Linked DNA regions of Homo sapiens. The protein of the gene in region 1 purifies or fractionates together with the protein of each later gene. This does not show direct contact. Each region holds a gene or a part of one and is shown in the gene's direction. Other genes may lie near its edges.

What was found.
Region 2: the proteins of SLC44A5 (region 1) and CLDND1 purify together in Homo sapiens (affinity purification with mass spectrometry; 2 studies listed by BioGRID and IntAct, with this or other methods). This does not show direct contact.

Annotation. Positions count from the first base shown.
Region 1 is NC_000001.11:75,608,051-75,615,334, reverse strand, and holds the start of SLC44A5 (choline transporter-like protein 5), read left to right. Parts: upstream 1-4,220; 5' UTR 4,221-4,295; intron 4,296-7,284.
Region 2 is NC_000003.12:98,514,983-98,520,201, reverse strand, and holds the end of CLDND1 (claudin domain-containing protein 1), read left to right. Parts: intron 1-1,206; coding exon 1,207-1,317; intron 1,318-3,012; coding exon 3,013-3,150; intron 3,151-3,322; coding exon 3,323-3,543; 3' UTR 3,544-4,719; downstream 4,720-5,219. UniProt on the Homo sapiens protein: Plays a role in negatively regulating the permeability of cells to small molecules.

The DNA of each region.
Region 1 (7,284 bases):
ACAAGTTCTGCATCCATTTCCCCAACCTCCATCCTCAGGAGGAGATTGGAGCTGGCTGCCTCTCCTTTTCCCTGCGGTCAAGGGGACTTGCTACCGGCCGAGTCCCTGCAGGCTACTTCCTGCTCCCCAACCTGTCGAGACGGGCAGTGGCTCCGGCTAAGCAGTCTCCCTGTTGCTCCTTTGGAACCCGGGCTTCCAAAGTTGGAAAGTTCGCGGAGAGAAGCGATGGCGGGGAGGACAAGGAAGAGCTTGTTGCTGGGGTGACGAGGCATTGCGGCGTGGTCCGGGGCGCGACTCGGGAGGGAGCCTCCTGGGCTGCGTCTTGCCTAGGGGTCGCAGAGCCGGCGCGCGGGGAGCAGGTGCAAGCCACCCGCTCCCGCAGCGCGGACTCGCAGAGGTCGCAGCTTGTCGGCTCCCTAGCTCTCGCTGGGGGACTCGCAGAGCCCTAGAGGTTGTCTGCAGCACTGCAGAGAGGTGGAAGTGGGCTCGACACCATGCGCGGTGAGGAAGGCTGTGCGCGGGGGAACTGGACCTGAGGATGGTGGCAAGGAAGGGGCGTCGTTCGAAGTTGGATTTCAACACAATGGGCCCAATGACCTGGGAGGCAGCGACTTACTGAGCCTTTGGGGTTATATAAAAAAGGACAGGAACTCAGATGAGAACTGAGGGGTGAAGGGTATTACTGAATACATTGGCTTGGACTACAGCAGCGCTCAGGCTTTGGCGTGCTTTTTGCTTTTCCTCCCAAGTCTGGCTTGTGGGAGCTTAGCTCCGCTCTAGAGGTCACTAGGGGGACACAACTTTATCTTGGCGCGTCAGCTTGCTTTTTAATTGCTCCGGAGTACTCAAAGCACTTACTGGAAAGCGTTTAAAATCATGATCCTTAATTCTTAAGAAGACATTACTATGAAAACACCTGGGACTTTTTGTTGTTAAAAATTATAACCTATGTATGACAATTTTATTGCAATGCCTTTTCTTAAAATATTATAGCTCCTGTAAAATTAGAGGGGCTTTAAACCTCTGATTCCCCCCCTCCATAAATTAGCGCATGGGTATAGAGATACACGAGTAAAGAAAGAAGAGAGAATATATTCACCTACAAACAGATTCCTCTCTTTATCATAATATCAAATAATTAGTCTAAGCCCAGATTGACAAGGCGTATGAGCTACACTTTTGGTTCGCTCCTTTTTTATGGAGCCATATGGCACGATGAGTGAAACAGAAGGATTGGTTTTCAGCACTGCTGATGTGGCTATCCATTGGCAGAAATACATTTCATTCCCACCCCAAACCTTGCAGATTGTAAATGGTCCATGAAGAGTGGAAAAAATTTTACAGTTTTACAGTACATGGTAGCCAGAGAAAATCTTACCCTTGAAATTAATAATCTTGGCAGAAGCACAAAAAGATACAATTAGATTGATGAAATGAGCTCATATAAGAGATTTGATGAAAAAGACACCTCCCCTTTATTCTTCCGTCCCCTCAAAACACCAAAAAGTTTTTGTTTTGTAGGTCAGTATGGAATCATTTGTATTTTCTTGAATAAGTTTAATTTGATAGTGAAATAATTGAAGAATAGCAGTTAAGTGTTAACAGTTTCTCTGGAAGGATTAATAATCAAGCTTTCTTACGACATGTGGTCTCAATAAATTTTATGTAGTACTTTAAAAATAAGGTTTTCTCATGCTACATGTTTTTCTTAAAGGAAAAGTTATGTTACTTAGCTCCTATCAACTTGTGTTGAGTTGTTCTTGTTTTTTAAAACAAGTTCATTTAGTATTTCACAGAAAGAAGGACACCTTTAAAAACAAATCCTTGGAGTTTCACTTTAGCGAAGCAGGATGAATTGTGATATTTGATAGATGACAGAAGCAAACCCAGAAAGTTGTAATCTATTGACTTGCCTCAATTTTGCCTTTTAAGAGGAGAGCTCTACAAAAGCATCTGACTGCAGGCTTGCTGAACTGCTCTCAGATGTCTGCTTCTAAGCTACAACCAACTAAACTGGGACTGCCTGGTAGGAAAAATTTCTAGGCTTTATTGGCAGGGGCAGGCTACTGGGGTGAACTTTGCTGGATAAAACACTGTAGATTTAGCAATATTCCATGCTGTGTTGGTTATTCTCTTACAAGAGCTGCTTCTCTGCTTAGCTACACCGCATGCAGGGAGAGATCATTCGTCGGATCTTGTGACAGGCAAGTTGCTCATTGGCTTCTGAAGTCCTAGCAAGAGAGACTATCCATAAGCCTAGAAATTGGCCAAAGAGAAATGCAGTTTCTTAACATTGATAGAAGAATAAGATCTGTTGGCAGGATTTCTCAAGGGACATTAGCATTCATTTGTGACATCTCATCAAAAGGACAGTCTTTCAGAAAGGCCAATGGAATCTTTTACAATCCAATATTGATAATGTTTTTAACGAAAAAATGCTATAGTTCATAATCAATACAAGTCTTATAAATGCAAGCTGGTTACATTGGTTATAATCACGTCACCACCCCCACCCCTGCCTTTTCCAATATTAGTACAACAAAGACTTCTTGCTCAATTACTTAAGTGTAAAACTTATGTTTAGGTTAATTTATTCATTTATTCATTTAGCACATATTTATTGAGCACTGAATATGTACCAGATTCTGTGCAAAACACTAGGGATACGGTAATGAACATGATAGACAATGAAGTAAGAGGAGGCCTGGAAGAAGCAGGTGACAAATAATATGAACCAGAAAATTTCACATAGTGATTAATACCAGGAGAAATAAAACAAAGTGATGTGCGAGCAAATGATTTTGAGGTTACTTTAGATTGTCTGGAAAGGTGGCATTTGTGTCGGGAAACAAGTGATGAAGAGTAATTTGCATGCCAAGAACTGGAACATAACACTTCAGGCCTTAAGGTAGAAATGAGGTGGTAGCTTGGCACATTCACATACAAAAGGAAGAGGTGTAATGTGTAAGGAAGAGACAGTTAGGGAGAAGCCAGGCCTTTTTGGTCATAAAAAGGAATATAGAGTTTAAGTGCAATGAGAAGCCATTGGATATTCACTTGCTATTTGGGGATACATTCCTCTCCTGGAAGATTATTTCAGGGAGAGGAGCATTCCTACATCAACTCCCTAGGCCAACTAAGGTGACCTAATAGACTTCACTTTTCTAAAAGGTCCAGTTATACTCACGTTATTTTCTCTTGCTATTCACCAGAATACCTATGCAATTTCAGGCTGAGATATTGATAGCATCTCTAGGAATCCCTGCTTAGAAAACAATTCTAGAGAGAATGAGGATTAATTTAACATTTAGTACAAGATGATAAGATTAGTCACTTCCCTGGCAAGCCTTTCAATGCAAGTAAGTCTTAGGAAAAACATATTGTAATGGTAGAGGGGGATTCTGAGGGGTCCAGAACATGACTGTGCAGTAGGCAGAATGTGGAAGGCAGCATGAGGGGCTCCTAGATAACAGAAAGGGGTCCACAGAAGGAGAAGAGTGATGTTTGGAAGGGGACATGAGAAAGCCTCTAAAACAACATCAGCCAATTCGTGATTTTGCCAAGTGGAAGCCTGATATGAGCATGTTCCAAGAGAAACATTCTCATTCAAACACAGAAAAAGTTTAAACCAGGGTACTTTTATGCTTTTGACTGATCTTTTTATAATGAAGCATTTGTAACAATAAAAGCACACAGATGTTTACAAAGTCTCTTTGATTTTACTTAATCACTGTCAGGTTGTTCTGATGGATTACAGACCTCACAAATGAAAATAGCATGAACATATTAATGATAACTGCTGTTTGTTGGAGGTAGTTGCTTGATAGCTAGTTAAGGAAATCATGCTCTTGGGTCTCATTTTACTGTAGAGATGTTGGTAAGTGGGATATGGGGTATATTGGATGATTTTCTTTCCCCTAAGCATTTGTGACAAGAAGGTGCTATGATATTCAGGAAAGACACAAATAATAGTAGATTATTTTAAAGGTAATCATGGCCTACTTCCACCTCCAAACTACCTACTTCTTTGCCAAGGATTAACAATGAAAAAATATACTATAGCTCCAGGACTTTGTTCAGTCTCCTCCCCCTCTTTATACTCCAAGTGACTCCTTTGAGGCTAGCAAGGCTAGTAGGACCTCAGGGATTACCTAAGAATGGGGTATGGCCCTTAGTGATACTGGAACACAATGTGTTTATGACATCAGCTTTTTTTTCACAGTAGTGAATCGTAGCATGTTAGAGTTAGAAGGTTCAGTGTTGATGGAGTTATTGAAGAAATGATGGAGTAAGAGGTGAGTGATACTGCTAAATGCAAGAAGTCTATGTCTGTAGGAAAATTGGTCAAGTTTGTTATTCATAAGTACGTATTCTATACAACTCAAGAAATACACACACACACACACATATATATAGTGAAGTCTGAATATAAATTAGGAACTGAGCACTTCCTCTCCGTGTGTGTGTGTGTATATATATAGATATCCTGGGGGATTATTTAAAGAGAGTAGTATTTTTACATCAGCTCCCTAGGCCAAGTAAGGTGACCCAATGGACTTCACTTTTCTAAAAAGTCCAGTTACACTTATGTATCTTCTCTTAATATTCACCAAAATATCGACAATATTTCGGGCTGAGATGTTGATAACATCTCTAGGAATCCTTACCTACTGGTATTCACACCTGTTCATACTCCCCTTCCAAAATGAATCACAGCTGACCATGTGATCAGTACTGTACAGCAGAAAACTACATCATAAAGACATACACTATGGCTTCTGCCTTGTTCTTTTGTATTCTTTGCTTTCTTATGTTGCTCATTTTGGGGAAACCAGATGCCATGTTTTAAAAATACTCAAGGATCCCTTGGATTATTTTTTGAAGCAGAGGTTCATACAGATATTATTAACATTTCAGCCCAAAATATTGTCGGTATTTTGATGAATAGTAAGAGAAGATACATAAGTATAACTGCACTTTTTAGAAAAGTGAAGTCCATTGGGTCACCTTACTTGGCCTAGGGAGCTGATGTAGAAATATTGCTCTCTCTAAATAATTCTCCAGGATATCTATGTGTATATAGGTATATGTATGTATATGTATATACCTATGGAGAGAGAAGAAGAGCTCAGTTCCTAATTTATATTCAGACTTCACTATGTGTGTGTGTGTGTGTGTGTGTGTGTGTGTGTGTGTGTATTTCTTGACTTGCATAGAAGTCTTGAATCTTAGCTCTGTGTGGGAAGAACTGAGGCCTCCTGCTAATAGCAACAACTTGCTAGTTATGTGAGTGATCTATCTTGGGAACAGACCCTGCAACCAAGTCAAGCCTTCAGATGACTGTAGCTTCAGCCAACATCTGACTGAATTTCATGATAGCCCCGACCCAGAGCTATCCAATCAAGCTGCTTCTGGATTCCTGAATCACAGAAACCATAAGATATAATAAATGCTTACTCTTGTCTTAAACCACTAAAATTTGGGGGTAATAGGTTACATAACATTAGATCATGAATATACCTGTGGTTCATTATTTTTGCACCTCTATCATGAAATGTAATATTTGTTACTAGTTCCAACACTGATCTTGAATCTTAGCCCTCTTTCCTATTTAGTGAATTGGGCTGAAACCCTGAAGTTCTCTTTTCTTGTTTCCCTTGAGTTTCTTGTAGCAGCTTGCTTTCTCCTCTGCTTTTTTGAGTACTGATTCCTGGCTCCTCTAGTTCATTTAGTTTAGAAGATACTTTCCAAATTGAAGCACTACCGAACCAAAAATCAGAGTGATAAAGAGAATACAAAAGCCCTAAAATCTCCCAACAGCACAAGATTTCACAGTCCTCCAAACTAAGAAGATAGAAAGTTTCTTAAAATCTACAATCTTTTATTCTCACCATCAAAAATAAGAATGTAAGGTAATGAATATGTTAAATAGCTTGATTTAGCCATTCCACAATGTGTATATATATCAAAACATCAGGTTTCACACCATAAATATATAAATTTTTACTTGCCAATTAAAAAAGAAAAAACCCAAAGAAATGAAACCCTAAAATATTCAAATAAAAACCTTTCCAGCTGTATTTATCTATTCCTCCTTACCAAAGAATCCCTTCCTCCTCCCAGCCCAGTTAGTCCTTTGAGGTATAAATAGGAGACTGAGAAAGAGGATTTAAGAAAGGAAGGTTGCCGTCTCTTCTACTTGAGAGTAGGATATTAATCTATTTTATTCGTTCATGTAGTTCTCTATTCATTCAATAAGTGTTAATCAATCGCTTACTATGTACTGGGCACTATTCTAAGCATGCTTGGGATAAATCAGGGAACAAAATGAATTCTTCATGAGGTTTACACTATACATAGGGAAGACAAACAATGAATAATAAGCATGAATACATTGTTGATATTAAAAATTGAAAAGTGCCATGACAGAAAGAAAAAAAAATGAGCATAGTAAGGGGGATTTGGATTGCTAATCATGGGATGATGGTGGGCCAGCTGCAAGTATTAATAGGGTGGTTAGGGTAGGACCAATTGACGAGGTAATATTGAAGGACATGAAGCAGTGGAAGGGGAGGAGACTTCCAGAAGGAAGGAAAAGCCAGAGCAAAGACCCTACAGTGAAAATATACCTGGTATGTTTGACTAACAGAAAGAAGACCAAGTGGAATTAGTAAGGGGGATAGAAATAGAAAATGAAGTCAGAAAGATGAGGGAAGACTAAATTATATTAAACTTTTTAGAAAGTTTTAAGACTTTGGTTTTTACTCTGGGGAAATGTGGCACCAGTTCAGATTTTGAACAGAGGAAAAATATGATCTGACTTACATTTTAAAATAATTGCTACGGCGACTGTGTTGAGAATATCGAGCCAATATGTAGGGGTAATGAGAAACTAGAAGACTAGTAAGGAATCTTTTGCAATAACTCTTTAAAAATTTTCTTCTTCTGGTGGCTGAATAATACTCCATTGTGTACACACACAACACACACACACACACACACATACCCCTCACATTTTGTTTATCCATTCATCTGTGGATAGACACGTAGGTTGATTCCATATCTTTTTCTCTGGAAAAATATATTTTCAGTTCCTTTGCCTATTTTTAAGTTGGGTTATTTGTTTTTTTTTGTTTTTTGTTTTGTTTTGTTTTGTTTTTGCTATTGACTTACAACAACATGGATAAACCTGGAGGACTTTATACTAAGTGAAATCAACCAGGCACAAAAAGAAAAATACTGTATGATCTCACTTATATGTGGAATCCAAAATTATTGAACTCA
Region 2 (5,219 bases), on another chromosome or scaffold:
ATTCATTAAACAAATAATTTATTGCATGTCTCCATGTTCCAGGGCCTCTTAGCTGGGAGAACATCAGGAAAGAACAAAATCCTTACTCCTGGGGAGCTAGCATTCTAATAAAGGATGACAGGCAGTGAACAGAATATAACAGTATAAACAGAATAAATAATTATTCAGTATGTTAAAAGATGACATGTGCTATGGCAAAATAGAACACAAAAGGGATTTGGAAATATGTGGGAAAAGGAATATTGGTGGCCATAGGTTATGATTTTCAATAGGATACTTAAAGTAGGTCTCATTGAGAAGACACCACTTGAGTAAAGAATGTAGTTAAAGACTAGACAAAAGAGTTGGCCATATGGGTAAATGGGGAGGAAGTCATTTAGGTTGGAAAGGACATCTACTGCAAAGGCTCTATGGCGGGAGCATGCCTGAAATATTCAAGGACCAGTAAGGAAGCCACTGGGCTGGAATGGAGGGAGAGACGGGAAGTTGGGTATGCTGTTAAAGACCTACTTTGGGAGTGGGACTGGGGCAAATCCTGGAGGACTCTAGGCAGAATGAGAACTTTGGTGTTGACTCCAGATACAGTGCTGAGCCCTGATCTGGTCACCCTGGCTGTTGTGAGAACAGAGGCAGCAGACAAAGGTGGAAACTAGAAGACTATGGTTAGGAGGTTATAGAAGTAATTCAGGTTAAGTGATGATTATGACTCACACCAGAATGGTAGCACTGAGCAGCAGCTGGATTCTGGACATAGTTTGAAGGAAGAATTCCTGGGATTTCCTGATGGAGTGTAAATGTACAAGAATTACTCTAAAGTTTCTGGTCTGAGGAACTGGAAGTGTGGATTTGGCATTCCCTGAGATGGGAATATGGTTGATAAAGCACGGTTGCATGAGAAGATCAACATTCCTATTTATTTCAGTCTTTGTTCCCTCCCCTTCTTCCTAGGCTTTCTACATAGCTATTCTGCCATTCATTTTACTGCTTCCACTTTATTTTTCTTCCTTGTGCCTATGTCTTCAGCCTGCCACTGAGAACCAGTGGCATCCATTGGACATCTATGAAACCTGTGTGTCAGTCAGGGCCAGAGAAGTTGCTGACCCCTCTGGAAACATCCTTTACTGTTTTACTTCAGAGAATAATTACTGAAAGAGATTTTTGTTAAATGTTTATAATTAAAACAACAGGCAATTGTTCTTGTTCCAGAGTCATTTGATGTGGTCACAAAATGTGTGAGTTTCACACTAACTGAGCAGTTCATGGAGAAATTTGTTGATCCCGGAAACCACAATAGCGGGATTGATCTCCTTAGGACCTGTGAGTACTTTGATTTCACCAGGACAGTTGGGGGAACAAAGATAATTTTATTTGTCTCTTTTTGGACTATGTTTTTGGAATAAGATGAGTTAGTAGATTGTGCCAACGTGAAATAAAATCTCTAACAGTATCCAGTGAACTCTATTCTGTTGATATTTTAGAAGGTAGATACATGCTTACCAAATTTCAAATGATTTGAAGTTGACAGGGCCAACTACTTCATTGGATGATGGGATCTAGACCTTCAAAAGATGTTATTAATGGGCCCATTTAGTAAAAGGAAATTTAGTTGAGATAACTTATACATTCCTATATTTGAATTAAACACTTTCCACTGCTTGAGTTCAGGTAAGTATATGTGAAAAAAGTTTACTGCAAGCTCTAAATGAGTCAGTGAGTTGTCAGGCCTGTCAAAAGTGTTTATCCAGTCTTAGGTGATAGTAACAAAAGGGTAGATGTCAAAAAAGATGAAAGTATTTATTAGGAACAACCTATTCCCTGATGGTCAGGCAGCCCATGAAATACTGTCTTCAGATTTGAGCCTCAGTTTTCAGGGCTATAGGGACTTGCCCAGAAGAATGACCATGTTGTAAGAGAAAAGGTTGAATAAGAGGTAGGTATTCAGTTTTATAAAGAGAATGTGTAGCAAGCAGTTTATTACTAGGAGAGTTTGAAAGAAAGTAAGTTAGAAAAACACATAAGAAGTTCCAGAAAGCAAAACCAGCACCAAAAGGTGTAAAGTTTAGTCAAGATTGATATGAATGCATTTCTAATAATGAATATTATTGGAAAATGGAATGGCATGTTTTGTGAGGTCATCAGGTTTTCTTCCCATGTTGATGAGAGATTTATGATAATTAAAACTACCTTTAGATTCTCTGCTTTGTGCTTTATATATATTCTTCAACAGCCCTATAAGACAGGTCATTTATAATTACCATTAATTTACTTGTTGTTACTGCCTTTAGATCATATAAAGACCTAGATATTGTTGGTAGGTAGAGTCAGACTGATTTTTGTATCAAATCCTGGCTCTACCACTTACTGTGTTATTTTTACAAGTTATTTATGACTCTTGCCTCAGTTTCCTTAATTACAAAATGGAATTAATAATAATACAGCTGTAGCTATGGGGGATTGGATTCAGGACCCCCTGCTAATTCCAAGGTTGCTAAAGTACCTTATATAAAATGGCATAATATTAGCATATAACCTACACAATCCTCCTGTATACTTTAAATCATCTTTAGATTGCTTATAATACCCAATACAATATAAATGCTATGTAAATAGTTGTTATACTATATATTTGTAAATTTGTATCATTTTTTTTTCTGAATATTTTTAACCCTTGGTTAGTTGAATCTGCGGATGTGAAACCTGCAGATATGGAGGGCTGACTGTACCTACTTTCTAGGGTTGTTGGGAGGATTAATACAGAAAATGTGTAGACAAACATAGCATGGAACATAGTGAACCCTCAGTAATTGCTACTACCTGTTAGTGTCCTTTTACTTTTATCAGGACAAGAGTAGCATCCTTTTGAATAATGTGCTTTAGAAAAGAGGCCTCAATGTTAAAATACTTTCACACTTTTTGAGAAAAGATCTAATTAGAATATGAAAGAAATTGCCATTGCGGGGAAAATGGTCTGAAATCACGGTAACATTTCTTTTCTCTCTTTTTAAAAATCAGATCTTTGGCGTTGCCAGTTCCTTTTACCTTTTGTGAGTTTAGGTTTGATGTGCTTTGGGGCTTTGATCGGACTTTGTGCTTGCATTTGCCGAAGCTTATATCCCACCATTGCCACGGGCATTCTCCATCTCCTTGCAGGTAGGTTTTGTCATCATACTTACCTTTTAGCTTCTTCCTGTCTCTTTAGGGACCAAAGAGTTATAAATCTGAAATGTTCACGTATTAACTGCCCTGTCACATTGCCTGAAAAGCTCTTTACTGTGCTTTTATCCAGCCATGTTTTGTTTTGTTTTCTAAATTTTCCCCCAAGGTCTGTGTACACTGGGCTCAGTAAGTTGTTATGTTGCTGGAATTGAACTACTCCACCAGAAACTAGAGCTCCCTGACAATGTATCCGGTGAATTTGGATGGTCCTTCTGCCTGGCTTGTGTCTCTGCTCCCTTACAGTTCATGGCTTCTGCTCTCTTCATCTGGGCTGCTCACACCAACCGGAAAGAGTACACCTTAATGAAGGCATATCGTGTGGCATGAGCAAGAAACTGCCTGCTTTACAATTGCCATTTTTATTTTTTTAAAATAATACTGATATTTTCCCCACCTCTCAATTGTTTTTAATTTTTATTTGTGGATATACCATTTTATTATGAAAATCTATTTTATTTATACACATTCACCACTAAATACACACTTAATACCACTAAAATTTATGTGGTTTACTTTAAGCGATGCCATCTTTCAAATAAACTAATCTAGGTCTAGACAGAAAGAAATGGATAGAGACTTGACACAAATTTATGAAAGAAAATTGGGAGTAGGAATGTGACCGAAAACAAGTTGTGCTAATGTCTGTTAGACTTTTCAGTAAAACTAAAGTAACTGTATCTGTTCAACTAAAAACTCTATATTAGTTTCTTTGGGAAACCTCTCATCGTCAAAACTTTATGTTCACTTTGCTGTTGTAGATAGCCAGTCAACCAGCAGTATTAGTGCTGTTTTCAAAGATTTAAGCTCTATAAAATTGGGAAATTATCTAAGATCATTTTCCCTAAGCATTGACACATAGCTTCATCTGAGGTGAGATATGGCAGCTGTTTGTATCTGCACTGTGTCTGTCTACAAAAAGTGAAAAATACAGTGTTTACTTGAAATTTTAACTTTGTAACTGCAAGAATTCCAGTTCAGCCGGGCGAGGATTAGTATTATTTTTAACTCTCCGTAAGATTTTCAGTACCACCAAATTGTTTTGGATTTTTTTTCTTTCCTCTTCACATACCAGGGTTATTAAAAGTGTGCTTTCTTTTTACATTATATTACAGTTACAAGGTAAAATTCCTCAACTGCTATTTATTTATTCCAGCCCAGTACTATAAAGAACGTTTCACCATAATGACCCTCCAGAGCTGGGAAACCTACCACAAGATCTAAAGTTCTGGCTGTCCATTAACCTCCAACTATGGTCTTTATTTCTTGTGGTAATATGATGTGCCTTTCCTTGCCTAAATCCCTTCCTGGTGTGTATCAACATTATTTAATGTCTTCTAATTCAGTCATTTTTTTATAAGTATGTCTATAAACATTGAACTTTAAAAAACTTATTTATTTATTCCACTACTGTAGCAATTGACAGATTAAAAAAATGTAACTTCATAATTTCTTACCATAACCTCAATGTCTTTTTTAAAAAATAAAATTAAAAATGAAAAGAGACTCAATTGTATATAGAGTGTCTGAATTGATTTAAATCTCAACACTTTAGGATAAAGAAGTGGAGGCAATCTCTGTGGTTGTCTGTGCAAAGTGCATCTTGCTGTACAGGGCTGTCGTTACATCCTGTGTTTGGGTCTCTTGTTTGATCTTCTGGGAAATGTAGGAACCCCTTCCCCCTATTAGAAATAAGAAAATCTTTATCTTTTATTTTTCAGAATTTTAAACCATGTTCTCAAAAGTAGTTTTGTTATCTCTACATGTCATACTTAATGTGGCTAGTTTTCAGTAAAGTCATTTAGTGGCTGTGGATGTTTGTGTTCTATAGTAAATAACCAAGTCAGCTTCTGACTTAGAACAAAGTCAGCATTACTCTGTAGCCAATTATTGCCTGTGAAATGACTGGTTACTCAGGTTTCTATCTAATCTTAATTCTTGAAGATTCATTACCCTTCAGCGCCTTCTGTGGAAGGTGGAAAAGAGAAAAGCTAAATGAACAAACA